7 separate regions of the Homo sapiens genome follow, and regions 1, 3, 4, 5, 6 and 7 are each reported to be linked to region 2. The links are microRNA targets in miRTarBase. Many come from high-throughput screens and were not tested one by one. Region 2 holds a microRNA gene; each other region holds the end of a gene's coding sequence.

What was found. The annotated mature microRNA hsa-miR-4646-5p reads ACUGGGAAGAGGAGCUGAGGGA and lies in region 2 at 1,739-1,760, opposite strand. An mRNA with a match to its seed (bases 2 to 7 or 8) in the 3' UTR can be bound and repressed. Matches are read on the target gene's strand: a 7mer-m8 pairs with bases 2 to 8, a 7mer-A1 pairs with bases 2 to 7 and ends in A, and an 8mer does both.
Region 1: the mRNA of MYO1C is a reported target of hsa-miR-4646-5p. Seed matches in the 3' UTR shown: 7mer-m8 at 759-765 and 7mer-A1 at 1,842-1,848.
Region 3: miRTarBase lists EPG5 as a target of hsa-miR-4646-5p. The part of its 3' UTR that is shown has no 7-base or 8-base seed match.
Region 4: miRTarBase lists NUP98 as a target of hsa-miR-4646-5p. Seed matches in the 3' UTR shown: 7mer-A1 at 2,891-2,897.
Region 5: miRTarBase lists BTG2 as a target of hsa-miR-4646-5p. Seed matches in the 3' UTR shown: 8mer at 2,028-2,035.
Region 6: miRTarBase lists PHF5A as a target of hsa-miR-4646-5p. The part of its 3' UTR that is shown has no 7-base or 8-base seed match.
Region 7: the mRNA of AGO2 is a reported target of hsa-miR-4646-5p. Seed matches in the 3' UTR shown: 7mer-A1 at 792-798.

The regions. Positions count from the first base shown.
Region 1 is chr17:1,462,363-1,466,426 of GRCh38, reverse strand. MYO1C (myosin IC) reads left to right here. Exons shown (of 32, transcript NM_001080779.2): 32 at 675-2,241. The coding sequence ends at 701. Among named protein-coding and RNA genes, the nearest start is that of CRK, 8.2 kb to the right of the region's middle. RefSeq lists enhancers at 2,403-3,222, 3,352-3,431.
Region 2 is chr6:31,699,332-31,703,397 of GRCh38, forward strand. It overlaps MIR4646 (microRNA 4646), which reads right to left and starts at 1,760; the gene lies at 1,698-1,760. ABHD16A (abhydrolase domain containing 16A, phospholipase) reads right to left here and starts at 3,993. Exons shown (of 20, transcript NM_021160.3): 1 at 3,819-3,993; 2 at 2,743-2,799; 3 at 1,943-2,009; 4 at 1,611-1,697. The coding sequence starts at 3,950.
Region 3 is chr18:45,848,920-45,852,985 of GRCh38, reverse strand. It overlaps EPG5 (ectopic P-granules 5 autophagy tethering factor), which reads left to right. Exons shown (of 44, transcript NM_020964.3): 44 at 337-4,066. The coding sequence ends at 519. Among named protein-coding and RNA genes, the nearest start is that of SIGLEC15, 25 kb to the right of the region's middle.
Region 4 is chr11:3,672,562-3,676,627 of GRCh38, forward strand. NUP98 (nucleoporin 98 and 96 precursor) reads right to left here. Exons shown (of 33, transcript NM_016320.5): 32 at 3,948-4,059; 33 at 2,458-3,815. The coding sequence ends at 3,598. Among named protein-coding and RNA genes, the nearest start is that of CHRNA10, 3.2 kb to the left of the region's middle.
Region 5 is chr1:203,307,149-203,311,214 of GRCh38, forward strand. It overlaps BTG2 (BTG anti-proliferation factor 2), which reads left to right. Exons shown (of 2, transcript NM_006763.3): 2 at 1-2,454. The coding sequence ends at 290. Among named protein-coding and RNA genes, the nearest start is that of BTG2, 3.7 kb to the left of the region's middle. RefSeq lists enhancers at 1-590, 7-246, 591-1,533.
Region 6 is chr22:41,456,600-41,460,665 of GRCh38, reverse strand. PHF5A (PHD finger protein 5A) reads left to right here. Exons shown (of 4, transcript NM_032758.4): 4 at 179-949. The coding sequence ends at 268. Among named protein-coding and RNA genes, the nearest start is that of PHF5A, 10 kb to the left of the region's middle.
Region 7 is chr8:140,528,623-140,532,681 of GRCh38, reverse strand. It overlaps AGO2 (argonaute RISC catalytic component 2), which reads left to right. Exons shown (of 19, transcript NM_012154.5): 18 at 67-266; 19 at 530-4,059. The coding sequence ends at 638. Among named protein-coding and RNA genes, the nearest start is that of CHRAC1, 19 kb to the right of the region's middle.

The DNA.
Region 1 (4,064 bases), not on the chromosome of region 2:
CCCGGGAGGTGGAGGTTGCGGTGAGCCGAGATTGCGCCATTACACTCTACCCTGGGCAACAAGAGCAAAATTCCATCTCAGAATTTGTATACAAAAAAGTTAGCCTGGTGTGGTGGCGTATGCCTGTAGTCCCAGTTGCTCAGAAGCCTGAGATGAGAGGATTGCTTGAGCCCAGGAGGTTGAGGCTGCAATGAGACCCAAGATCTCACCACTGCACTCCAGCCTGGGTGACAAAATGAGACCCTGTCTCAAAAAAAAAAAAAAAAAAAAAAAGGCAGCACGGCAATGCAGGGAAGATACATAGGCTGATTGGGGGTGCCAGGAGGGAGGACAGGCTCACAGGCTCACGCTGGCCAGGGCGGTGGGCATTCCTATGGGAGTCAGGTCTGAGTCTCCAGGATGGAGACCACTAGGCCCCCACCACTCCTGCCTGCATCGAACCCATGAATCTGAGCGCTGGGGCTGGGTGCGGCGGCTCACGCCTGTAATCCCAACTCTTAGGGAAGCAGAGGTGGGAGGACAGCTTGAGCCCAGGAGTCCAAGACCAGCCTGGACAATATAGCGAGACCCCATTCTCCATAAAAAGGAAAAAACAAGGACGAAAAGAAAAGTCTGAGTACCGGGGCCCCCGTCTGCTCCCCTCACCACTTGGCCGTCTCTCTCCGCCCCCACAGGTCGCCCCACGGCTGAATTCTCGGTGATAAAGGCGCCCACTGGACCCTCCCAACGCCCAATGCTTTGCTTTTCTCCTCCTCCCCTTCCCAGTTACCAAAGACTCGAACTTCCAGACAGGGACCCAGGGACACCCCGAAGCCCACCTGCAATCTCCCACCTCCTGCCCATCCCTCTCTTGAGGGAGCAGCAGGGGCCAGGAGCTACCCCAGGAGTGGGCCAGGCCGGGCCACAGCAATAGGAAAGCCAGGGCCAGAGCGAGCCATGCCAGCCCTACTGCCGATGCCAAATATTTGAGAGAAGGGAACTTTTGCTGAGGTTTTCTCTGAGGTTTTTTTGATGCTTTATAGGAAACTATTTTTTAAAAAAAGCCATTTCCCACCCAAGGACACAGTGGATGTGTTTTCCCTGACTCCAGCAGGGCAAGGAATGTAGCCGAGAGGTTGTGTGGGCTGGGCTCTGGTGCCCTCTTCCCTGGCCAGGACACCTCTCCTCCTGATTCCCTTGGCACCTTGTCTTTCTGTCTGTTTACCTGTCTCCCTGCCTGCCCATCTGCATCTTTTGCAGCCCACTCTGACTTCCATCTGGGGGCTGAGACCACCCTTGCCTGCCCCCTTCTTTCTGCCTTAAGAATGTCCTTTTAGGCTGGGCATGGTGGCTCACGCCTGTAACCCCAGCACTTTGGGAGGCGGAGACGGGCAGATAACCTGAGGTCAGGATTTCGAGACCAACCTGACCTACATGGAGAAACTCCGCCTCTAGTAAAAATACAAAATTAGCCGGGCATGGTGGTGCACGCCTCTAATCCCAGCTACTCGGGAGGCTGAGGCAGGAGAATCACTTGAACCCGGGAAGTGGAGGTTGCAGTGAGCCAAGAGTACACCACTGCACTCCAGCCTGGGCAACAGAGCGAGACTCCGTCTTAAAAAAAAAAAAAAAGAACGCCCTTTTACTGTCCTCATCATCCCAGTTTGAGGCAGTGCTGGAGTGGGGAAGGCCGTCTTAGACCATAGAGGTTGGAAGACGCTGAGAGATCATCCAGCCCAGCCCCTTGATGTTACAGAGCAGAAGACAGATGCCCAAACAGGAGAAGGCACTTGCCCACGGTCATACGGCAGGTTGCCACAAAACCAAGATGGCAGCCCTTCCTCAGCGTGCCTCACTGCCACTCCCAGAGCCAGGGAGCCCCATAAAACCCACATCATGTCTTAAGAGTATATCTGGCTCCTTGACCAGCAATCGGCCCTGGGAGCCACCAGGTGGGAAAAGCGCCTCTGCCAGAGTCCAGGCCTTGGGATGACAGACAGCTTGCCCGCACACTCGGGCCCCACTCAAGGATGTAGGGCCTTTTCTGGCCCCTGACCCCTCCCTGGCATGGGAGCGTGGGGACGGGGCTGGCCTTGGGAGGAGCGGCAGGGGCATCACCTCCTTCTGCTGCTTCTCCCTGCTCCTACCCTCAAGGGCCTGGGGGCTGCCCAGCTGCCTCTATGCCCTTCTGGGGGTCTCAGCCCACTGCTGACACTTCTGCAATCCAGAGAAACACTAAATAAAGCAATACGTGTTTGCCAATGTGGTCTCCTTATGAATATTAGGAAACGAAGAGGGCCCCGGAAGGCAACCAAGGGCCTCGTGTTGCAGGTTTTTCTCGAGACAGTCTCGTTCTTGTCACCCAGGCTGGAGTGTAGTGGTGTGATCTTGGCTCACTGCGACCTCCACCTCCCAGGTTCAAGTGATTCTCCTGCCTCAACCTCCTGAGTAGCTGGGACTACATCATGCGCCACCACGCCTGGCTAATTTTTGTATTTTTAGTAGAGATTGGGTTTCACCGTGTTGGCCAGGCTGGTCTCGAACTCCTGACCTTGGGTGATGCCTCCCACCTCGGCCTCCCAAAGTGCTGGGGTGACAGGCATGAGCCACCGTGCCCGGACACCTCTCGTTCAAATTCTGTTGCAAGTGACAAACCCAGTCCAAACTGGCTTGGGCCAAAAAAAGGATATTTATAAGCATTAGCACCTTAGTCCCAGAGTAAGGCTACTTCCAGGTGCTCACACACTGTCAGGAATGTGTCTGGAACCATCGCCTGGCTGAACCTTCCTCTACAGTGGCTTCTTTCCCAAGCAGATTCTCACCTGGAGGTGGGGTGGCAGCAACAGCCACCCACAGCTCCAGGCTTTCATTCTGTCAGTTCAGCATTGGAGGCAGAAAGAGGAAGTGCCTCTTTCCCAAAATGTGGAAGTCTCAGAGCGGATTCTCAGTGCAGCACCTTGAATGAGGCATCCACCCTGACCCAATCACTGTAGCCAGGGAGAGGAATAGATTCTGATTGGTCAGGCCTGGATCGAGTGCCTGCCCCTGGAGACAGAGCTACCAGGGGCACACCGGAACCCACACCGGAAACCACAGAACCAAGAGTGGGAGGAGATGACTCGCCAAAATGAAATCAGTGTCGCCTCCACAAGAAAGAGAATGAGTGGGCCGGGCGCGGTGGCTCACGCCTGTAGTCCCAGCACTTTGGGAGGCTGAGGCAGGTGGATCACCTGAGGTCAGGAGTTCAAGACCAGCCTGGCCAACACGGTGAAACCCCATCTCTACTAAAAATACAAAAATTAGCCAGGCAGGGTGGCGTGTGCCTGTAATCCCAGCTACTCGGAAGGCTGAGGCAGGAGAATCCCTTGAACCCCGGAGGCGAAGGTTACAGTGAGCCGAGATTATGCCACTGCCCTCCAGCCTGGGCGACAGAGCAAAAAAAAAAAAGAAAGTGCTTCAAGCTGCAACCACGGAGCTCGTCGTCAGCAGATGGCTGTGAGTTTTTCCAAGAGGGCGGCGCGCTGTGGGTGGAGGGAACGGTGCATGTGGAGCTTAGAGGCAAGAACAGGTTTGGCCCGGGGTCAGGCCAGCTGCCTGAGGAGCTTAGATTTGAAACCTGGGGCAGAGATTCTCAAACAAGGAGATACCACGCAACGTGGTGTTTTGGGCTTGACACGATCCTGTACGCACACCTACATTTTGACACCTCTCTCCATGATTAATTTTCCCGAGGAAAAATGAAACCACAATTATTCGTCCACTTTATCAGCAGTAACGATGCCTCCAAGAAGCTGATAGATAAGATAGGTATTAAGTGCAATTACATGCTTTATAACTGTGTCGACATTCCTTTCTCTAGCAAACCAGAATGCACGCGAGAATGACATCACAGACATTACCCAGACGTCCGCCTTTTTTTGTTTGTTTGTTTGTTTTTTTGTGACAGAGTCTGTCGCCCAGGCTGGAGTGCAATGGCACGATCTCAAAGTGGTCACTCCAAAGTGGTGGGATGACAGGCGTGAGCCACCGTGCCCAGCCTACTCTGACCTTTTGAGAGGTAACCAGGACTGGTTTGTGCCCTCAGC
Region 2 (4,066 bases):
CCGGGAGGCGGAGCTTGCAGTGAGCCGAGATCGCGCCACTGCACTCCAGCCTGGGGGACAGAGCGAGACTCCGTCTCAAAAAAAAAAAAAAAAAAAAAGAAAACCATGCCCTTGTTGTCTTCGGTGTTCTACCTCAAACATGCACATCCCTTTTGAATTTTATATAAATGAAAACATACTGCATACATTATTTTGTGGTTAGCTTCTTCTATTTAACACAACATTTGAGAAATTCATCTGCATTGCTTTTGTTTATCTGGAGACAGAGTCTCGCTCTGTCACCCAGACTGGAGTGCAGTGGTGCTATCTTGGCTCACTGCAACCTCTGCCTCCCAGGTTCAAGCAGTTCTCATGCCTTAGCCTCCCAAGCAGTTAAGACTATAGGCATGTGCCACCATGCCCAGTTAATTTTTTGTATTTTATTTTTTCTGAGATGGAGCCTTGCTCTGTTGCCCAGGATGCAGTACAGTAGCGCAATCTTGGCTCACTGCAACCTCTGCCTCTTGGATTCAAGCAATTCTACTGCCTCAGCCTCCCGAATAGCTGGGATTACAGGTGCTCACCACCATACCTGGCTAATTTTTTTTTGTATGTTTAGTAGAGACGGGGTTTCACCATGTTGGACAGACTGGTCTTGAACTCCTGACCTCTGGTGATCTGCCTGCTTCAGCCTACCAAACTGCTAGGATTACAGGCATGAGCCACTGCACCTGGCTTCATCTGCGTTGTTGAGCGTAGCTACAGTTTGTTCATTTGCATTGCTATATAGTGTTCTCTTGCATGGCTATTGCATGGAACTTTTTTTTTTTTTTGAGACGGAGTCTTGCTCTGTTGCCCAGGATGGAGTGCAGTAGCGCAATCTCGTCTCACTGCAACCTTTGCCTCCCAGGTTCAAGCTATTCTCCTGCCTCAGCCTCCTAAGTAGCTGGGATTACAGGCACGTGCCACCATGCCCAGCTAATTTTTGTATTTTTGGTAGAGACGGGGTTTTACCATGTTGGTCAGGCTGGTCTCAAATTCCTGACCTCGTGATCCACTGGCCTCTGCCTCCCAAAGTGCTGGGATTACAGGCATGAGCCACCACACCCGGCCACACAGAACATATTTTATCCATCCTACTATTTGTAGCCACTGGAGTTGTTTCCAGCTTAGGATTATTACAAACAATGTTGTATGCTGTATTCTTGTACATCTATATTGTTTATACATGTGCAGGAGTTTTCCTAGTATGTATACATATATAGAATTGTTGTAGGGTATATGCATCTTTTCTAGATAAAAGCAGCCAGGCATAGTGGCTCACATCTATAATCCCAGTACTTCGGGAGGCTGAGGTGGGAGGATCACTTTGAGTTCAGGAGTTTGAGACCAGCCTGGACAACATGGTGAGACCCTATCTCTTAAAAAAAAAAAAGCAAACCTTTTTGTTACTTTTCAGTTATTTTTTCATATTTATAACCCAAGTCTTTTAAGGAAAAGATCATGCCTTAAACCATTCTCAATGATTCCCTCTCGGAGGCCCATCACTAAAATGTATTTGCACAAGGTACTTAATTTTTAACCAGTGACAGTGACAGATAAGATTCAAACCAGGTTTCCTCTCCACCTACCTCGGAGGCAGGCCACACCTGCCAGAAGTAGCAGCAATGTCCCAGCATAGTGAGAAAACGGCACCACTTTGGACAAACTCAAGTAACCTGGGAAGGGAGAGGGACAATGTGAGACCCTCTCCGCAATGTCCCTCAGCTCCTCTTCCCAGTTCAGCCCCAACCTCCACCCCACACTCCCTGTTTGGAACAGCCATACCCTAAGAGGAAGAAGATGCCTGATGGAAGAGGGAAGCCAAGCCATCTTCACAGGTCCCCTCTCCTCTTTAGGGAGCTGGCTCATCTGCCAACAACCTGCCCATTTGCTACCCCACCACCTTTGAAACCACACTGACCTTTCCTGTACAAGTAGAAGAAGGCGAAGGGAGAGGAGTAATAAGAGATGGACCAGAATACTGAAGCCTGCAGCAGAGAGACAGGGACAGGCAATCAATACACACACACACACACACCTGCCATTCCAGGCATATACTATACACTCTGAGCAAGATGGACAACCTGAGGGATATCATATCATATTTGGTGTATGACACCATGAATACAGTAGGTGCTCAGTATTTGTTGAAAAGTAGTGTGTCAATGTAATGGAGGCTGGGAAAATTTGGTACAGGCTCTATTTTCTTCCTCTGGAATTATGGAAGAATTATGTCTTCCATCTCCAGACATAATTCCATCACATTTAAAGGCAGTCTCTCTGTCTACTCAAGTTAATCAAGCCTTTTCAATTGGCCCTGCTCAGGACAGCCCCTGGCCTGGTCCCCAAGAGATGCGCAAACGTCACCACAGGAACTGTGCCAGAAAGAACAGCTGTCCCTGCAGCCAAAGAGGTTAGTTGCCAGGGAGGACAGGTCACTGGGGAACTGCAGGACTTAGCACCTGCAGATGGTCCCAAGAGTAAACATGTTTTCCTTACGGCTCAGGTTGCCCCCAGAGAAAGCAGTGCTACATACCAAAGGGGAGTGCCAAGTATGCACATTTAGAGTGTGCCTGTGTGTCTGTGTTGGAGAGGTCTGCTGCAGAGCCCAGGGCATCCCCCAACCCCAGGGCACTGTTGCTCCCAAGTTAGGGAGGGCTAAGTTCAAGAGGACAGGTGGGTCTGAAAGATGCAGAGTCCCAGATGCCAGGGTAGACATACCAGTGCCAGGATGCTGTCAGCATGTTTCTCCAGGGCACGGGGCTGATAGTACGTATCCTGCCAAAACAGATGGCCTCCTTAAGGACCCTGCCCACTGGCAGGTCCTTTCCCTTCCCTTTCAGAAGCCCTGCTGTGTGTCCTCTGGTTCTAGTCTCGTTGACTATCTCTCTTGAAACATCCCTGGCCCCCACAGAAACTCCTCTTCCTCACCCTCACTCTGAACCTAATTTCCCACCCCTGACCATGGGAACAAACACAGGGAGCTGGATTTGGAAGCAAAAGTGAAAGCAGCATTGGACGATTTTTGCTCCTTTTCCACAGCCTAGTTTCAAATGGATTGCAGGCGCGTGCATGTGGGGAGAAGGGTTAGTTTGAGAAGAAAGAAAAGACACCTAGACAATCTAAGAAGGAAAGAAAAGCATCAGAAATAAGAGTAGTTGACTAAGAAGAGAATGTGGGTAGGAGCGGGCAGTTTGTAGGAGACAGTAACACAATGAGACAACTGATAAAAAGGAAGAGAATATTTAGAACAGCCTACCACCACCCGCCAGCTCTCCAGAATACAATGACTCGGGTCTCCAGGCTAGGTTGGGCGGGGGTTGAGGGGAGGACCGACGGATACAGGATCTGTAAAAGTCATTCTGAAATTCAAGGCGAGGGTAAAGGGAAGATAAAAACAGAGCCGGGGGAGGCATGAAGAGGCACTGAAGAAGAGGAAACTGGGAGTCTGACAGCAAAATTCAACGGCTCCCCAGTCCGCGCAGGGTCTCTTCCCGGGACTCAAGACTCAACTGGGACCGGCACGAACCACGACACACAGGGTCGGGGGGACGCGGAGAGGAAAGAACAAAGAGTGGCAGTCGGAATGAGAAAGCGGTAAAGAGCGAAAAAGAAAGGAGGCGGCCAGTCCGTAGGCGTGACTTTAACTCAGGAAGCACACAGAGCGCAGATTTTGCGGATAACTGGCTTGACAAGCAGGCTCCCCTTATTTCCCATTATGGGCACTTCTGGGGAGCAAAAGGCCGTAAAGGGTTTGGACTGTACCACGTTCTTCGGTGGGGAGGAACTCGACTCACCCAGGAGCTGGAATGGGGGGCAGTGACTGCCGTTGGCGTCTCAGGGACGCTGGCCGGGGCCCTTTCAGAGTCCCTCTCCCGGTAGATTTTGTAGAGCCGGGGGCCTAGGACGCAGCTCAGCAGCTTCGCCATGGCCCCGGCTCGGGCCGCTGCTCTTCCAGCAGCAGGTCCCCCTGCCGGCCCCGCCCTCCCTGCCTCTGAGGTGTTGTGTGCCCTTGACGTCAGCCCGTACCGGCTCCGCCTCCGGG
Region 3 (4,066 bases), not on the chromosome of region 2:
GAAATCGGTGTGGCAGGTGAGGCGCCCAGCAACAAGAGCAGCCTGCCACAGCAGTGGCTCTTGGTAAGGCAAGGTTGGGAAATGGCACAGAACAGAAACAGGGAAGGCTGGGTGTGGGATGCTGCAAAGGCCACAGAGGCTTGGGCTGCTGGCCTCCTTCTGGTTGTGGTTAAGTTAATCAATGCCTGCCTTCCGGACTCCTGGCCTCAGTTCTGTAGGCCTCCTTCCCACAAGGCTCACAGTTGAAGTACACAGTGATAATGGGTGTGCTGTACCTCTGGCAGTCACATTATGTGCCTCTATGGAGTTAACCCTCTCATCTTCCGTGTCTTTTAGGCTCTGAATGCTCTTGAATCCATGGCATCAAGTAAGCAGTATGTTGAATACCAGGATCAAATATTGCAAGCCACCCAATTTATAAGGCATCCTGGCCATTGCCTTCAAGATGGGAAAAGCTTCTTGGCTCTTCTCGTTAACTGTCTGTATCCAGAAGTGCATTATTTGGACCACATACGATAGTTAACACTGAGGCTCTTGAAAAACCCATTGCTGTTTATGTTTACATTTAACTTTGCTGTTGCACAAGTAACTTTGCTCAATTGCACTGTAGAGCTCAGTTTGGCCAATGTGTAGTTGACTGAGATGCAAGTTGGGAGGCGTTAGATATTAGATAATTTTGGGGTGTGTGTGTGTGTGTGTGTGTGTTTTCTTAGCTCTTAAGACCTTCTGGGGACTCTTTAAGTTTTTATATTTATCCACAAGAGAAACTTACTAAGTTCCACTTGGGTGCAGAGCCACTCACAGTTGCCGAATGTCCCAGTCATCTCACAAGACCTCCAGATGGAGTTCTTTGTATGTTTCCACTTCTGTCTCTGTTTTATGTAAATGTTCCAGATCTGACAACCTTGGAAGTCACTCAGTACCCTTACTTTTAAACCCCATTTGTGTTCCTCCAAAGTAAAGAAGTCAATTTTGAAAAATTTCTGCATTTCTCAAATGTGGACAAATACAATAGTTTTAAAGTATTGTTTTTCTCAGAAGGGAGATAAAAATGCCGAGTTAGTTAAAGTGGGTCATGTGTAAAATACGACCACTTGATCGTGATTATAGTGGGCAGTAGAGATGATGACAAGTCAATTTCCATCCAGCCGTGTATCCTCATGGAGAAGCTGCCTGTCTGAATCAGGATGGCAAGCTGGCAGTCTGGGAGGAGCATGTTTTGCACAGATGTTTTGTTTGGTCCACTTGGTGAGGAGTGCAGACAGGGCTGCCTCTCTCTAGTCGGGAGAGTCTGTGCATTCCCTCGGGCCCTGACCCTAGCCTCATTCACATCACTTGCCCCTGTCGACACCTAAGTTTGCACCCTTTGATAGACACCATGTTCGATATCTGAAAGGCTCAGTGTCAGGAGACAGAGACTGAGGGAGACTGAAGACCTGATTCTCTGTTCCCTGCTTGTTTTTTAACTTCAAACTCAGATGAAGCCAATGGACCTGCTGAAACACTTGTCTGTGGAAACTGGGTCAGGTCGGGAGATCTACTGAAATTTGGCTTTTTTTCCATAGCCACGTGCCTTCTGTTGTTGACAGTTCATTCATTACCAAAGCCTGTGTGTAACTTTGCCTTGTTCTGTGGCCATCTTCTTGCTCATGTTATTTCTCCTGGGAATGAGCAGTTTGACTTCTGTTCCCACGTTCCTCATTCTATCAGCTCTAGATGGATTTTGCCTGCATAGCTGGCTTAATATGTCTTTGTGTATGGGTAGTCTGTAGCCTGAGAATATTTACCTAAAAATGTCTAAACAGCCACCAAGAATGTTTATAGGGGTATAGGAATATAGTTAACAGAGTGCTAATCTCTCCTCAAATGTCCTTTTGGAATGCTTCCCCCAAAATTGGGAAGTTGGTAGGAGCTTTTCTTTACTTTGAATTTCTTTACTTGGACAGAACGATTCTGCCTTAAAGACACGCTTTGCAGCTCTGATAAAGAACATCCCTGTTTAGTCTCTTGAGTTTTACAGGCCACAAAATGTCCGTCTCAGAGGGATCTGTCTCAGCTTTTCTTATTTTTGCTTCTCTCCGTTTTCAAAATTAATCATCTTGTTCTCTGTATAAGAAAATTTGAGAAGCTGTGGACAATTTAATAGTCTGATCTGGCAACAGCGATTTTTGTTTGGAAATATTTTGTGTTTTCTTTGAGGAGGATATAATTACTGATATCCTAGGATGTGAAATTTTTGAGTGACAGTATGCACATTTTAAAGAAAATTATGATTAATCTGTATAATGTTTTTTGGTCTGTAAAAATTATAAAAAATAAAATCATTTATCTTTGGTTGTAACTGTTTAAAAACCAAATTATAGGGATATCACACTATCTTGTAAAGTGTTTCAGCTGTTAAAGTTGCTGTAGGTTTTTATGCCTGATGTCATTTAATTTATTTGACATTGAACTTCATTAATAATCAGAGATGGTCAGTGAAAGCGCTTCCTCTTTAACTCTTTCTTGCTTAACCTTGGAAGGTTGACTCAACTCCTAGGTGTCTATGGGAAACTCTGGGCTAGGAACGTGCTATAAAGACACTGAGCTAGTTCAGACATGGCCATGCTGCTGTAGCCTCCTGGGAAAGAAGGGCGGCAGAGAGACCAGCCCGCCTGTTGGCTTGCAGGGGTAATGAGCCTTGGCTTGAAAAAATTGTTGGCCTCCAGAGAGCACGGGGCTGTGGTTTCAGAATCAGTGATGGGTGCCGCACATCAAGACGGGAATCAAGCAAGACCAAGGCCCTGTGGACTGAGCAGCGTGGAGGGCGAACGGCTGCAGGCTCCAGACTTCACCACAGGGTGGCCAACAGTGGCATCGGGACCAAATAAAGATGTCTAACAGCTTCCTGGGAGCAGGAGGAGGCAGGATTCTGGTTGCCATGAAAAACATCTCTCTCCCTCTCCATCACTCCCCATGCTGCAGTGCACAGGTGGGTTGCAGAGGCAGGCTGCATCCCGGAATCATGTTGTCCCACTGCCTATTAATAGAACAAGTGAAGGGCAGAATGCTGGAACACACCAGACATAGAGGGAGGGAGGTCCTGCCAGATGTGTCTACACAACTGTCTACATAGCATGACAGTAGCAGTGGATTCGGGACCCACCTGTACATGTTTCCAAAGCTCCTTCCTGCACACTCGGGACCTCAGCTCCAAGGCGTGACTCATTTCTCAGTCTCACCATCCTTTGTTGGCTCAGACATCGCATGCCTCTGCCCCACTGGGGTTGTGTGCCTGCGTCTCTCACTTCTTTGAGGTTGGGGAAAGCCTAGTCCAGAAAATGAAAACCCATAGACCAGCCTAACTTCCTTTCAACCAAGTGACGGCCTCCTGGTTCCTCTCAGTTCATCATCAAAATCAGTGTGTACATGTCATACAAGCCAAGAGTGTTCATGTCCTCGTTCCTTTCAAATGAAGGTGATATATACTTTTTCACTGAGTTTTTATTCCTGAAATTCTTTCTTCTGGAGCAGGAAGCAAATGTCCTGGAATCGTAGACTTTTACAGTCAGAAGGGTCATTCACGTTCATCTAGTGCCCCTCTCACTCTGCAGGGATCCTCCTGCCTCTCCTCTGCCCCTGTCCAGTGCCTGGTGGTCCAGCCTGTGATGGGCAGGCCTAGGCTGCCATCCGCAGGCTCTGTAGTTCTGCTTTCTATTGAACCAAGATGTTTCTACGTTGCCTATTGGTCGTGGTTCTGTCCAGAGCAGTTCAGGCTGGGGCTGTTCACTTGCCCCTCCTTGAGGCAGACCTTTAGATATTTTCAGTTTTCATCACATGTCTAACACCACTTCCACCCCACCCCTCACCTCTTAGGCTAAATCCAAGCTAAATCCCCCAATGTCTTTTTTTTTTTTTTTTTTTTGAGACGAGTCTCATCTGTCACCCAGGCTGGAGTGCAATGGCATGGTCTCGGCTCACTGCAACCTCCGCCTCCTGGGTTCAAGCTATTCTGCCTCAGCCTCCCAAGGAGCCAGGACTACAGGTGCATGCCACCACGCCCGGCTAATTTTTGTATTTTTTAGTA
Region 4 (4,066 bases), not on the chromosome of region 2:
GCCTAAGGTACAGCAGGTCATCAACAATATTTACACTGTGGTCCCAGTAAGGTAGCCAGGCTATCCTCAGGTCACAGGTATTTATCATGCACAGAGTTTTGATTATTTTTGTTCAAGCTGACCAGTTGCCTGACCAACAGCAGCACATACTTCCCTGGCAATCACATCCATAGCCATGACTTTGGGCATCGTGGATATGCCAGTGATTCCCTGCACTTTCTCCACCCGTCCCCTCTCCCAGGTACTCTGCTTATCTCCAACCACCTTCCTAACACACAAGCGTTTCACATCATTTCAAATTGAAATCCAACATTCACTTATTCAAGCTAGTAGAGGGGAACTGTCCTTAACTTGTTAAAGAACAACTACCAAAATACCCTACAGCCATCCTGCCACCTCAGCCTCCTGAATAGCTGGAACTAAAGGTGCACACCACCCAGCTAATTTTTGTTCATTTTTTAAGAGACAAGGTCTCCCTATGTTGCCTAGGCTGGTCTTAAACTCCTGGGCTCAAGGGATTCTCCCTCCTCAGCCTCCCGAGGTGCTGGGATTACAGGCGTGAGCCATCGTGCCCAACCAATACAAGGTTTAACAAATCCTTAGGAAAGCCTAAGAAATGAACATTTAAAGCAGAAATTAAGATTATACAGAACTCCAGTAAAATTGATTAATACGTCTAAGGACTGGTTATTTGAATAACAAAAAATCTGGAACAATTTTCTGGAAATACAAATTAACAAAACTGAGCTAAAGATGAAACATCTAAAAAGAGCAGATACTCTGCAGGCCTTTGCTTAATTATTCCAATATTTAATTCTCCAGACCTCTGTTAACTTTGGGTTCTGTTGAGAAAATAAGTTATTTGAATGTTGTAGATTCCACAGATCTATCGAATGTTGAGGTAACTGGTTCCTGTTTTATGTTTTTGAGAATTTTTTTTGAAATTAAAACATTTTTTACTATTTCAACGGGATTTTGGGATGTGGAAGAGATTGTTCAGGCCTGGCGCGGTGGCTCACGTCTGTAATCCCAGCACTTTGGGAGGCCAAGGCAGGCTTATCACGAGGTCAGGAGATCGAGACCATCCTGGCTAACACGGTGAAACCCCGTCTCTACTGAAAATACAAAAAAAAATTAGTCGGGCATGGTGGCGGGTGCCTGTGGTCCTAGCTACTTGGGAGGCTGAGGAAGGAGAATGGCATGAACCCGGGAGGTGGAGCTTGCAGATCGTGCCCCACTGCACTCCAGCCTGGGGGACAGAGCGAGACTCTGTCTCAAAAAAAAAAAAAAAAAAGAAGAGATTGTTCATCACCCTTATCTTGAACTGGAAGTTGATATTCTCTTTTATGCACAACATGGCTTCTATGATAAACCTTTGATTGAGAACCTTTTTTTTCTTGCTCTGTTGCCCAGGCTGGAGTGCAGTGGCACAATCATGGCTCGCTGCAGCCTTCAGCTCCTAGGCTCAAGCGATCCTCTTGCTTAGGCCTCTTGAGTAGCTGGGACTATGCACACACACCACCATGCCCAACTAATTTTATTTTTTTTTAGAGACAGAGTCTTGTCATGTAGCCTGGGGTGGTCTTGAACTCCTGGCCTCAAACGATCCTCCCACCTTGGTCTCCCAAAGTGCTGGGATTACAGGTGTGAGCCACCACTCCTGGCCCACAATTCCGAACACTGCTAAGAGCTAACCATTTCTATAGCATACTCACTTTCTGAAACATTCCTCTGGTAAGGAAACCAGGTCAGGTGTTCTTTGCTGGAAGTCCAACTATGTTTTGTGACTCACTCAGGTTCACATAGTGAGTCAGTAGTGGAGGGGATTCCAGCTGAGTAACCCCTATCCTGAGGCATCTAAGTTAAATGGAAGTTCCAGACAACAGAGCTGACCCACTCTGCTTTCTCATCCCTGAATTCCTGAAAGTCTCAGAAGTCTTTGGTCTAATCTTAATTGGAATTTGCTCACATCTTCAGCTTGACAGATCAAAATAAGATCTGGAATAGTACTCATGCTACTCAATTGATTCCTCTTGAAAATAGCCCTGTGTGAAGTAACATCAGCAATCATTATCCCCTTTACAAAAGGGAATCTGATTTAGAAAGGTGAAGCGTCACTCAGGGTTTAAAAACAAAACCACTATAGTAGAAGAGCGAGGAGGCTTTGAATGGTATATTCTATTGGGCAATTTGAGACCCGGGAATCTATGTGCATAAATATATGTACAGCAATCAGTATTAATCAATAATCAACTCCCTTGCCCCTAAATTTCCCCTTATAAATCTAGCCTTTGGGCTAATCTATCTTTCAGTTTAGCACCCAATTGTTCTCTTTAGCCCATGGCCTGTCTCCATTTAGAAGGCAAATTCAAAAACAGGCTAAATCAAACAAGGCCACCATAAAGATCCTCAGGGTAAGAAGGCTCAAAAATACAAAGGGAAAGCCAATACCAGGAATGCTATAAACATTTTATTTATTTTTTAAGAAAGTAGCTTCAGAAAAAGAGGAAAATATCTAGATCATTTATTTATACATATATATATTTTTTAATAAAAACCTTTACATTATCTTCATGCATAAAGACCCAGGTGTGGCCATATTGCCTGAGATAGCCCTAACACCAGCTATCTCATGCCATTACCTGGGGCTCCCTATAGCTGTCAGCAGTGTAGCAAAGGCCCTCTGCCTGCCCCTAACGCCCAACTCCATGCCTGCCTCAGTCATGGTTTGTTTTTGCTTCTGGAAGGGGTAGATGGAGGGTGGGAAATGCTTTGGAGCTAACATGGGATGAACAGGGAGGGTTACCCAACCTGCCATTTTTTATCCAAACTCTGCAGGCAAATCCAGACAGAGTCTCAGCAAGACTGAAAACCAGGGACCAAACCAAACTCTGGGAGCTTCCCACAGACATGTCACATGTGACCAAGGGTTCCTGCACATAGTAGTAGCAAAGGTATGGTGTTCATGGAACTCTAAAGGCAGGAACAAAAACAGCCCTGAAGATCAATCCCTCCGTGACAGGCATTCACTTCTGCCCTAAGTGTGTCAGAAAGATCCCATTTTGTTTCCTAACTCAGGCCAACCCTCCTTTGCCTCCAAAATTCAGTGTTAACTAACCAATTACTTAAGAGACGGATCCCTCTTCCTTCTGTGGATAGTTCATCTGTTAAGGATCCATTATCACCTGTCTCACTCCTCCTAAGGAGTCCTAGTATAAAAGGGCCAGGGTAGGAGTAGGGAAGCTGGTTGGCATGGAGGGTCACAAGATCCAGAATGGCTAGGGATGGAAAAAGAATACCCTGGTTCTTTGGGGGATTCTGCCAAAGGAGCTTTATTGACCATTTTTTTAAAGGAAAAACACTGAATGATCTTGAGGATGGTAAACTGTCTCCTCTTCTGGGTTCCAGAAGCCCTTATGCTACGTTCAGTATTAAGAAAAGCCCTGAACAAGTGGAGGATGCTGCTTCTGGCAGCAGGGAGGGAGGGTAGATGCCACAGCCAACCCAGAGAATGGCAAACAGTGCCAATCCAAACAAGGCAGGGAACCTCTGTGTGGTGTGAATGGGCATGTGACTGTGATGCAAAGTGCCTGGGGCTCACAGGCTCCCAACAGCCAGTTCTCGCAGATAGGACTGGGTAAGGCTGCGCAGTTCGTCCATGGCATAGTCCTCAGGCATGGGAAGCCGGCCAATGTGGGGAGCCAAGAGGCGCAAAGGGACTCGCTGAGGGTCTGGTGTTGAGTCGGAGGTTCTATCAGGAGGATGATGCAGACTCAGCACCACGCGCAGCAGGTTGGCTACACGTTTGGCCATGTCTAGAGAGAAAAACTAGAGTCAAGCACTGAGCATGGGGTCTGGAGAAGGGTGGTAGGCACTGAGGGTGGGGTGTAATAATCATAAAAACAGGAAGCAAGAAGGCAGAAAGAGTGAGGAGGTTAGAGGCTTACCTGACTGAGCCAGGCGATCTTTAGCACTGTAACACTGAATCTGCTCTATCCGACTGCACAGTGAAGTCACTTTGATGTGTAACTGCTCCAGGTCATTACCTGAGCAATCCACCTACAAA
Region 5 (4,066 bases), not on the chromosome of region 2:
CCGGCTACCGCTGCATTCGCATCAACCACAAGATGGACCCCATCATCAGCAGGGTGGCCAGCCAGATCGGACTCAGCCAGCCCCAGCTGCACCAGCTGCTGCCCAGCGAGCTGACCCTGTGGGTGGACCCCTATGAGGTGTCCTACCGCATTGGGGAGGACGGCTCCATCTGCGTCTTGTACGAGGAGGCCCCACTGGCCGCCTCCTGTGGGCTCCTCACCTGCAAGAACCAAGTGCTGCTGGGCCGGAGCAGCCCCTCCAAGAACTACGTGATGGCAGTCTCCAGCTAGGCCCTTCCGCCCCCGCCCTGGGCGCCGCCGTGCTCATGCTGCCGTGACAACAGGCCACCACATACCTCAACCTGGGGAACTGTATTTTTAAATGAAGAGCTATTTATATATATTATTTTTTTTTAAGAAAGGAGGAAAAGAAACCAAAAGTTTTTTTTAAGAAAAAAAATCCTTCAAGGGAGCTGCTTGGAAGTGGCCTCCCCAGGTGCCTTTGGAGAGAACTGTTGCGTGCTTGAGTCTGTGAGCCAGTGTCTGCCTATAGGAGGGGGAGCTGTTAGGGGGTAGACCTAGCCAAGGAGAAGTGGGAGACGTTTGGCTAGCACCCCAGGAAGATGTGAGAGGGAGCAAGCAAGGTTAGCAACTGTGAACAGAGAGGTCGGGATTTGCCCTGGGGGAGGAAGAGAGGCCAAGTTCAGAGCTCTCTGTCTCCCCCAGCCAGACACCTGCATCCCTGGCTCCTCTATTACTCAGGGGCATTCATGCCTGGACTTAAACAATACTATGTTATCTTTTCTTTTATTTTTCTAATGAGGTCCTGGGCAGAGAGTGAAAAGGCCTCTCCTGATTCCTACTGTCCTAAGCTGCTTTTCTTGAAATCATGACTTGTTTCTAATTCTACCCTCAGGGGCCTGTAGATGTTGCTTTCCAGCCAGGAATCTAAAGCTTTGGGTTTTCTGAGGGGGGGGAGGAGGGAACTGGAGGTTATTGGGGTTAGGATGGAAGGGAACTCTGCACAAAACCTTTGCTTTGCTAGTGCTGCTTTGTGTGTATGTGTGGCAAATAATTTGGGGGTGATTTGCAATGAAATTTTGGGACCCAAAGAGTATCCACTGGGGATGTTTTTTGGCCAAAACTCTTCCTTTTGGAACCACATGAAAGTCTTGATGCTGCTGCCATGATCCCTTTGAGAGGTGGCTCAAAAGCTACAGGGAACTCCAGGTCCTTTATTACTGCCTTCTTTTCAAAAGCACAACTCTCCTCTAACCCTCCCCTCCCCCTTCCCTTCTGGTCGGGTCATAGAGCTACCGTATTTTCTAGGACAAGAGTTCTCAGTCACTGTGCAATATGCCCCCTGGGTCCCAGGAGGGTCTGGAGGAAAACTGGCTATCAGAACCTCCTGATGCCCTGGTGGGCTTAGGGAACCATCTCTCCTGCTCTCCTTGGGATGATGGCTGGCTAGTCAGCCTTGCATGTATTCCTTGGCTGAATGGGAGAGTGCCCCATGTTCTGCAAGACTACTTGGTATTCTTGTAGGGCCGACACTAAATAAAAGCCAAACCTTGGGCACTGTTTTTTCTCCCTGGTGCTCAGAGCACCTGTGGGAAAGGTTGCTGTCTGTCTCAGTACAATCCAAATTTGTCGTAGACTTGTGCAATATATACTGTTGTGGGTTGGAGAAAAGTGGAAAGCTACACTGGGAAGAAACTCCCTTCCTTCAATTTCTCAGTGACATTGATGAGGGGTCCTCAAAAGACCTCGAGTTTCCCAAACCGAATCACCTTAAGAAGGACAGGGCTAGGGCATTTGGCCAGGATGGCCACCCTCCTGCTGTTGCCCCTTAGTGAGGAATCTTCACCCCACTTCCTCTACCCCCAGGTTCTCCTCCCCACAGCCAGTCCCCTTTCCTGGATTTCTAAACTGCTCAATTTTGACTCAAAGGTGCTATTTACCAAACACTCTCCCTACCCATTCCTGCCAGCTCTGCCTCCTTTTCAACTCTCCACATTTTGTATTGCCTTCCCAGACCTGCTTCCAGTCTTTATTGCTTTAAAGTTCACTTTGGGCCCACAGACCCAAGAGCTAATTTTCTGGTTTGTGGGTTGAAACAAAGCTGTGAATCACTGCAGGCTGTGTTCTTGCATCTTGTCTGCAAACAGGTCCCTGCCTTTTTAGAAGCAGCCTCATGGTCTCATGCTTAATCTTGTCTCTCTTCTCTTCTTTATGATGTTCACTTTAAAAACAACAAAACCCCTGAGCTGGACTGTTGAGCAGGCCTGTCTCTCCTATTAAGTAAAAATAAATAGTAGTAGTATGTTTGTAAGCTATTCTGACAGAAAAGACAAAGGTTACTAATTGTATGATAGTGTTTTTATATGGAAGAATGTACAGCTTATGGACAAATGTACACCTTTTTGTTACTTTAATAAAAATGTAGTAGGATAAACTTGTGTGGTGTAGAGAAGTTAAAATCCTCACGTTGTACATTTGTGTTTCCCTTTCAGATCCAAATCCTTTCTTTGTGTTTAATAGTATTTCTCCTCACTTGCACTCAGACAATCTATAGCATGTGGGTGGTATAAAAGAAAAATCTGGTTGTATGGCTGGGCCATTTCCAAGCATCCCCTCTTTCCTGGAAAGTAGCTCCTTACTTCCCTCCGTTTTGTTTGTTTGTTTGTTTGTTTTGAGACAGTTTTGTCACTCAGGCTGGAGTGCAGTGGTGCAATCTCAGCTCATTGCAACCTCTGCCTCCTGGGCTCAAATAATTCTCCCACCTCTGCCTCTTGAGTAGCTGAGATTGCAGGCATGTGCCATCAGGCCCAGCTGATTTTTGTATTTTTTGTAGGGACGGGGTTTTGCCATGTTGTCCAGGCTGGTCTCAAACTCCTAAGTTCAAGTGATCCCCCTGCCTCTGCCTCCGAAAGTGCTGGGATTACAGGCGTGAGCCACCGCGCCCAACCTACTTCCACCTTTAATGAGGATTCTAATTTCCCTGTGAAGATGCTAGAAGTAACAGGGTTCTAGTCTGAACATTCCCTAGTCTAGCCAGATCTCCATCTTATGCATCTTGTTTTTGATAGTCGTTCATTTCATTCATTCATTCATTCAGTCAGTTATTCATTTAGCAAGCATGTATTGTCAGTAAGTGCTAGGCACTGAACTTATTAAAAATCCTTGAGACACAGCCTGTCTCACAGACCAGGGTTTGGTAAGCAGCGGGTAATGAACTCCTTCCCAGGCTAAGGCAGGATTGTTGGCAATTCCCAGAAAAGGTGCTCTTGTCATCTCTGGGGCTGTCATTTGCTATCCACCATACTTGTCTTGTTAGACAAGAGCAGCTAGGCCTCAGGATCTATGCACTGGAGCTGAATGCCAATGCTACAGGTTAGCTAGAGAGCAGCTACTTCTGACAGCAAACACTGGAGTGAGAGCCAAAAGTTTGTTACCAATTTGTAACTCCCTTTGGTTACATGCAAGGAAATAACAGTTTTTATCTTCCCTGACTTTTGAGTTCTTTCCATGAGATTTTTGACACAAGCCCAGAGTTTCCCACTGAGGGCAAGTACATTCCCAGCCTGGTCTAGTTTTTTCTTGGCTGTAGGTGAGCTGTATTTATTTGTTTATTTATTTATTTCTTTTCTTTTCTTTTTTGAGACGTAGTCTCACTCGCTCTTGTCGTCCAGGCTGGAGTGCAGTAGTACGATCTTGGCTCACTGCAACCTCCGCCTTCCGGGTTCAAGTGATTCTCCTGCCTCAGCCTCTGGAGTAGCTGGGATTACAGATGCCTGCCACCATGCCTGGCTAATTTTTGTACTTTTAGTAGAGACGGGGTTTCACCATGTTAGCCAGGATGGTCTCGAACTCCTGACCTGAGGTGATCCACCCTCCTCGGCCTCCCAAAGTGCTGGGATTACAGGTGTGAGCCACCGCAGCTGGCGGTGACCTGTATTTAAACTAAACTTTACACATGTTGCTTCATATACAGTGACAACTCCCCCAACTTCATTTCTTACCTCCATGACCTTTATCAACAAACATACAGTTTTCCCTAGATGTGC
Region 6 (4,066 bases), not on the chromosome of region 2:
GGCATCATCATAGCCCACTAGTCTCGAACTCCTGGGCTTCAGCAATCCTCCTGCCTCGGCCTTCGAGTAGTAGCTGGGACTAAAGGCACATGCTACCACACTGGGCTTAAATTTTTTATCTTAAGTCACTCTTGGTTCAGGCTCAAAGACTTAACAACTTCTCTGTTCTGTTTTCCAGAGAGATGGCTGCCCAAAGATTGTCAATCTGGGGAGCTCTAAGACAGACCTCTTCTATGAACGCAAAAAATACGGCTTCAAGAAGAGGTGATTGGTGGGTGGCCCCTTCCTCCCCCCAACATCAGTCTGCTGCAGCTGCCAGAAAACATGCCTACTACTACCAGCAGAAAGGGAGCAGAGCCCAGAGCATCACCAGGAGTGCCTGCTAGTGTACTGGCAGCTTGCCACCCCCTCCTCTCCCTTCACCCAGACACGTGGTAGGGATGGAAAAGGATTCTTCACAGAGCACTCTGGCACACCATATCGGAGAAAACTTGATAGATTAGTTAATGGTTTTTCTTGAATTCGAGAAGCAAAGATCTGTTCTCCATATTGGTATGTTCTCCCTCAACCAAGATCTTCTAAAAAGAAATAATATTTTAGTCTTCTGCTTGAGGAACTGACTGTGAAGCGACGCCCAGTGAAAAACATGTTCTTGCAGCAGCTCTGGTGGCAGCTGTCCTTGAGGAACCTTTGGTGTGTGGTGGGAAGCTATCAGAACAAGAAATGTAGGCATTTCCCGTTTTTTTTGGGGGGGGGGTGGGGGGGCAGGGCTCTGCCCTCTTGAAAGGCATTTACTTGTTTAACACTTGTCCAGCTACAGTGGGGTACAGTAGCTGGCTATTCACAGGCATCATCATAGCCCACTAGTCTCATATTATTTTCCTTTTGAGAAATTGGAAACTCTTTCTGTTGCTATTATATTAATAAAGTTGGTGTTTATTTTCTGGTAGTCACCTTCCCCATTTAACTTTAACTCTAGGAATTTATTTTAGTCACCCAGGAATTTGTGATTCAAAACAGAGGTAGTGGGATTGGTTAAGTACTTTGTCCTCTTATTACCACTGGAAGGAATTCAAAACCACCCATACCTTTCATTATAGATAGATCAAAGTCATCTTTAGAAACGTACTATTTTTTCCTTCCTGTCCAACTTTAATTTTGAACTGAAGAGATAGCTTCCAGTTATGGTGGAGGCTGGGCACAGTAGCCCATGCCTGTAATCCCAGCACTTTGGGAGGCTCAGGCAGGCGGATCTTGAGCCCAGGAGTTCAAGACCGGCCTGGGCAACATGGCAAAAACCCATCTCTATGAAAAATATGAAAACTAGTCAGGTATAGTGGCATGCACCTGTAGTTTAGTCCCAGCTACTCAGAAGGCTGAGATGGGAGGATCCCTTGAGCCTTGGAGATTGAGGCTGCAGTGAACAGTGATCCCGCCACTGCACACCAGCCTGGGTGACAGAGCAAGACTGCCTCAAAAAAAAAAAAAAAAGATGGGCTGGGCGCGGTGGCTCACACCTGTAATCCTAGCACTTTGGGAGGCCAAGGCAGGCGGATCACTTGAGCCCAGGAGTTCGAGATCAGGCTGGCCAACATGGCAAAACTCCGTCACTGCTAAAAATACAAAAATTAACCAGGCATGGTGGCACTGTGCGCCTGTAGTCCCAGCTACTCGGGACGCTGAGACAGGAGAATTGCTTGAACCTAGGAGGCAGAGGTTGCAGTGAGCCGAGATCGTGCCATTGCACTCCAGCCTGGGCAGCAAGAGTGAAACTCCATCTCACACACACACAAAAAAAGGTTCCAGTATAACCCAGAGGATGCACAAAGGAAGGGTTCTAGGCCTAGCTTGGAGGTACCACAGGAAGGCAGGGGAAGGCCATGGCCATAGGACTACAGCACTTTCCGGGCGCTTTTGGCCACCCCTTTCTCTGCACTGCAGCCATAGGCTCCTTTTCAGTTCCACAACTGCTGCTTTCCTTTTGGCTTCTGCTTTGGGTTTATTTTTAACATGTTGATCCCTCTAGAATGCTTGTGCCCCCCTCCCTTTTACTCAGCTAACCCCTACTCCCTTCTGACCTTAGCCAAATATTTCCTCAAAGATGCCTCTCCGGACCCTTAATCTAAGTTCCCCTTGTACTCCCACTTAGCATCCTATGTGGTTTTTTGGTTTGGTTGGTTGGTTTTGAGACGGCATCTCTGTCACCCAGGCTGGAGTGCAGTGGCACGATCTCAGCTCACTGCAACCTCTACTTCCCAGACTCAGCAATCCTCCCACCTCAGGCTCTGGAATAGCTGGGACTACAGGCATGCACCACCCTGCCCAGCTAGTTTTTTGTTTTTGTTTTCGAGATGGAATTTTGCACTGTTGCCCTGGCTGGAGTGCAGTGGCGCAATCTCCGCTCACTGCAACCTCCACCTCCCAGATTCAAGTGATTCTCCTGCCTCAGCCTCCCTAGTAGCTGGGATTACAGATGCACGCCACCACACCCAGCTAATTTTTTGTATTTTTAGTAGAGATGGGGTTTCACTGTGTTGGCCAGGCTGGTCTTGAACTGACCTCGTGATCCGCCCACCTTGGCCTCCCAAAGTACTGGGATTACAGGCGTGAGCCACCAAGCCTGGCCTGTTTTTTGTATTTTTTATAGAGACAAGGTCTCGCTGTGTTGCCCAGACTGGTCTCAAGCTCCTGGATTCAAGTTACCCTCCTGCCTCAGCCTCCCAAAGTGCTGTGAATACAGGTGTGAGCCACCACACCCAACCCTATGTGTTTTCTTAAAGCATTTGGTGATTAGTGAAAGTAACCTACGACCGTGTCTACAAGAGCAGGAAGCAAGTTTGTTTTGCCCAGTAGGTAGCAGGTAGGTGTTCAGTATTGAATGAATGCTTGAAGTCAAGGAAACTGGATAATAAACTGGACTTTGATATGTCAGAACCTACAGGCAAAGGGTGCAGTAGGCAAATAAGGGCATTTGTTGGGGGGGGCATCAACTTGAGCAAAGACAGTCGTGAACAGGGTGATATGTATTGATTCGGATATGGTCTCACTTTGTCCCCCAACCTGGAGTGCAGTGTCATGAACACGGCTCATTGCAGCCTCGACCCCCTGGGCTCAAACAATCCTCCCAACTCAGCCTCCTGAGTAGCTGGGAGGTGTGAACCAGCATGCCCAGCTTTTTTTTTTTTTTTTTTTTTTTTTTTTTTTTTTTTTTTGTAGAGACAGGGTTTCACCATATTGGCCAGACTGGTCTTGAACTCCTGAGGTCAAGCGATCTGCCTGCCTTGGCTTCCAAAGTTAGGATAATAGGCATGAGCCACCACCCCCAGCCTAGGGCGATGTGTGTAGGGAGCTCTGAGCAATTCTAATGCATCAGTGAGGTGATTGCTATGGTTTGAATGTTTGTCCCCTCTAAAACTCATGTTGAAACTTGATTCCCAATGTGGCAGTATTCAGAAGTGGGACCTTCAAGAAATGATTGGGTCATGAAGGCTCTGCCCGCATGAGGGGATTCATCCTTTCACTTTTTTTTTTTTTTTTTTTTTTTTGAGCCGGCGTCTCTGTCACCCATGCTGGAGTGCAGTGGCATGATCTCAGCTCACTGCAACCTCCACCTCCCAGGTTCAAGCAATTCCCCTGCCTCAGCCTCTTGAGTAGCTGGAACTACAGGCACGTGCCACCATGCCCAGCTAATTTTTGTGTTCACCACCATGCCTGGTTAATTTTTGTAATTTTATTAGTGACAGGGTTTCACCATATTAGCCAGGCTGGTCTTGAACTCCTGACCTCAAACGATCCACTCACTTCGGCCTCCCAAAGAGCTGGGATTGCAGGCATGAGCCAACGCACCCAGCCCATCCTTTCACTGTTAATGGATTAATGGGTTATCATATAAATGGGACCGATAGCCCAAAAATAGCTGTTTGGTGGTGGTGGTGGTTGTTTTTGAGACAGACTCTCACTCCATCGCCCAGGCTGGAGTGCAGTGGCGCGAACTCAGCTCACTGCAAGCTCCACCTCCCGGGTTCACGCCATTCTCCTGCCTCAGCCTCCTGAGTAGCTGGGACTA
Region 7 (4,059 bases), not on the chromosome of region 2:
TTCTCCACAGTATCCTTTTAAAGATTTTATGCGAGTCCAACTGTCTAATCTTCTGATCTGCTTTAGGGGACAAGCAGGCCTTCGCACTATCACGTCCTCTGGGACGACAATCGTTTCTCCTCTGATGAGCTGCAGATCCTAACCTACCAGCTGTGTCACACCTACGTGCGCTGCACACGCTCCGTGTCCATCCCAGCGCCAGCATACTACGCTCACCTGGTGGCCTTCCGGGCCAGGTACCACCTGGTGGATAAGGAACATGACAGGTGAGTGGCATGCCTGGCTGGAGGTCACAGCAGGGGTGGTTTTTGCCACGGGTATTGGCAGCTGCTTTTCTGGAAGGGGAAGGGGCAGGGCCCCAGCGGCTGGAGCCGGCACCCCAGAAGGCCTGTTAATGGCACGGCCGTCAGCGTGGGACTCTTCCCTCTCCCAGGTTCCCGCCATGCCATCCCGACTTAGTGATCGACGCACTGCCTCATCGTGCATTAAGGCTGCACATTCTCATTCTCTCTCTCTCTCATCCCTGCAGTGCTGAAGGAAGCCATACCTCTGGGCAGAGTAACGGGCGAGACCACCAAGCACTGGCCAAGGCGGTCCAGGTTCACCAAGACACTCTGCGCACCATGTACTTTGCTTGACATGTTTTAGTGTTTAGCGATTGTGTACCGAGTGGGATTCACGAGACCAGCTACACTCAGACCAACAGATGGCCAGCCCTTCCGTGACAGCCAGCATCGAACATGAGACGTCATTGATTTTATTAGATTCTCCGTTTTCCAGAATGCCTTCCGTCCCAGATTTCAAACTTGGATTTTGAACTGCAGACCTGTATGAGAACCCAATGTCATAGGAAATATGGTTTGCTAAAATCTATAAGCTGCTTATTAAAACAGAGTCCCGTGTGTCCTAAAAATCTCCTAAAACCAGTCTATGAACTCAGGGCTTTAAAACATTTTTAATTTATTTGGTCATTCAATTTACTTGTTTTTAATACATGATTCTCTATGAAATTGATGGGCTCAAACTAGCTGTGAATCTTCTGAGAGTGAAAGCAACACAAAACACAAGTGTGGTTTTAAAGCCTTGAACATTCTGATGTTGTCACTAAAGTTGATTTCCAGGCGATGCTCGTGTGCCCCTGGCGTGGCTCACCCAAGTTCCTCGACTGAGGGCCGGTGGCCATGCAGAGGCGTCCGCAGGTGCCGTGTTCTGCCAGCACCGCCCTTCACCCGGCCTGAACTAAGGAGCAGTGGCAGAAGGTGGGCCCCGTGTGTTTACAGCATTTCCAGGTCCAGAGAGGTTGGCAGACAAGTGCCATTTTAATAAAAAATGTATTTAAAAAAAGAAAAAAGACAATATACTGACAGTCTAATCATCAGATTTGTCCTATAGGACTGTGACATTTATTTTCCAAAGTTTTTAAAGAATACGGGTCTGTGGTGATAAATACAGTACAATCCTTTTTCACTGTTATGTCTTTAATGTAAGAGAAGAATATATATATCTGGTTTGCAGTATTAATGTGATAGATAGATGCTGTTTTTTCATTTTATTGACTATGGGGTGCTTCTGTGATCTGTTTGGCATATCAAGAGTGTTTTGGAGCCTGGAGATGGGACCGCCTCTCAGTTCTTAGTGCTTAAGGACAGGAATATGCAATTGACTTAATGTGACAGCAACCCGCTTCCCCCGTGGAGACTGTGCAGCGTGTACCCATGGGAGGGACGGATGTGCCCTCCGCGCCGCTCGCCACCCTCCCTGCCGCCTCATCCCCGTGTGTCACTCACTCAGCTGATGAAGCACAAGTGGAAATTATTTATTCTTGCATTGCTGGGAAACATTGATGTGTGGGGACTCACTCCTCTCCGTGTGCTCTTTTGTCAGATGACTTCCATAGATCTATGCACTGAGATTCGTAGAAAGCTGTTGGTGGTGGCTCTGCTGGGCGTGAGGCCGTCGGTCACAGCGAAGGAGCTTGCCTGGCCCTGGGAGGCCCAAGGATAGCAGGGCCAGCAGAGGGCATGGGCCGTTCTTCTGGGGTTTGCATTTGGGGCCCCAGACTTGGGTTTGCCAATCTAGAAACTGTTGCACTAAGAGTGACACCACGGACGATTTTGAAGGCTAACAACAGACAACTCTGTTTGTGCTGAGTGGGCTTTTTGTCTCTGTACACAGTTTTAGTAAGACTCAAATCCATGTTCCGTGTAGAGGCGTCAGGAAGGAGGCGAGCCTCCCCTAGTGCTGCTGTGCGCTCCGTAGGTCCCCTCTTCCTGCTGCTGTTCCCTCCCCGGCCCTGCGCGACACTTACCTCGGCACTGTGGTGGGGTGGGGTGCCAAAGGAGCTGCCTCCTGCTCAGCGGCACCCCCCCCCCCACCTTTGTGCTCAGCTGCTTTGGAGGCAGCAGGAGGGGCAGCAAGCCGCAGGTCGGGGGTCTCCCGATACCTCGCCTGGATATTGGCGGCAATGACAAAGGGATGACTATTATTTGTGAAGATGTGTACTCAGAGTGGTGTGTGTGTGTGTGCATGCGTGTGTCCCTGTGTGTGAGTGTCTTATTAATGGCATTAGTCTCTTCTGGCTGTATTTTTTTTTAATCTTTTTAAATGACAGAAGCTCCCACTCTAAGAAATGGCAGTTCCTTTTGTTTTAGTGGCAAGTGGCACTTTCTCCTGTTTTCAGAAGGATACAGACATGCTCGTAGCTTAAATTAATGGATGCATTCAAGCTAAGGAGGGAATCTTGTGACTAATAACTTTTCAAATCTGAAATTAGATTAGTTTCCAGCCATTTTTACAATCATCTGGAACCATGTGTCTCAAAGGTGTGTTTCTTCCACCTGCGTCAGGCTGTCTGGGGGATGGCGGTTCTTGTTTAACATGCAGATTTGTGGGCCTGCTGCCACCTCCTGCGTGCGGTACTTCAGGGATGGCCAGGGCATCTGTGTCTAAGCGATGGCCTGCAGCCCTGGGCTCCCTGGGGTCTGAGGACCCAGCTCTGGTGGCACCCAGCAGGGAGGAGGTGCTTCCTGAGCAGATGCCTGAGACAGACTGGGCTGGCAGAAAAGTAGGACTACAATTTTTGTTTTTTTTAATCATTTTGAAGGAAAACTTTCATTTTTAGTGGGCCAGAGTACTTCGAAAAGGGTACTTTTTTATAGCCCTATGCTTGTTTTATAAAACTTTTAATACTAAAAACATTAATAGACCAAACATCTCCAGCTGGGTCAGCTGCACACCTTTGTACATGTCTGATGATTCAGAGTTTAAATGGCTGTAGTTACAATTTCTCAGGTAAACAATTGTTTTCTCAAATTTTTACCAATCCCTGCATTATTAGGATAAATTTTGAGACAGTGTAAAAACCTCAAAGTACAGTAGGGTAAGTCCCAGCCCTGTTCACGTGAAAGCCAGAGGTGGCCCTTCCCCGGCATCTGATCGTCTGATCATGTGGGTGCCTGGGGCCTTGCCACCCTTCCCTGTCCACTGCTGCCCCCCTGGGCCTGTCAAGATTTGAGGGGTGCCCACTCGCTGGCTTTGTCCCCATCCCACTGTTAAGTAAGGTGTGCCTTGCTTTAAGCAAACTGAATGTGAAAATTATGTGTAGAAGTCTGGGTTTGTTTAAAAGAAAAACTGGGATTTTATCTCATCTCTTTAAAAGAGGTCTCCCAATTCGATTTCTGTACTGGGACTCTTCCTGGTGTGTTTTTACATGTTCACTTTTTAAAAACATTGATGTACTCCCATCCTTTTACCACTACCCTATCACATTTGACAAGTTCTTGCTGTAATGACGACGCAATTAACGAACACCAGGGGAGCGGTGGAAAGCTGCCCTCGTGTGTGAGCCCTTCGGTGACGCAAAGCCACCGTCCTGTTGTTTTGTGTGTCCTAAGCTCAGATTTTCCTGGTTTGGATAAATTTTGTAAAACTGGGCATAGCTGTACTTTTAGAAAGGGATCGTTTTCCTTAAGTTTTGGTTTTCTCTGGTTCAAGCAGTCTTTACATGCAGCCTTTTGATTGCACATCAGGGTCTCCCTTTTCTTTTCCAGATGATGTTGC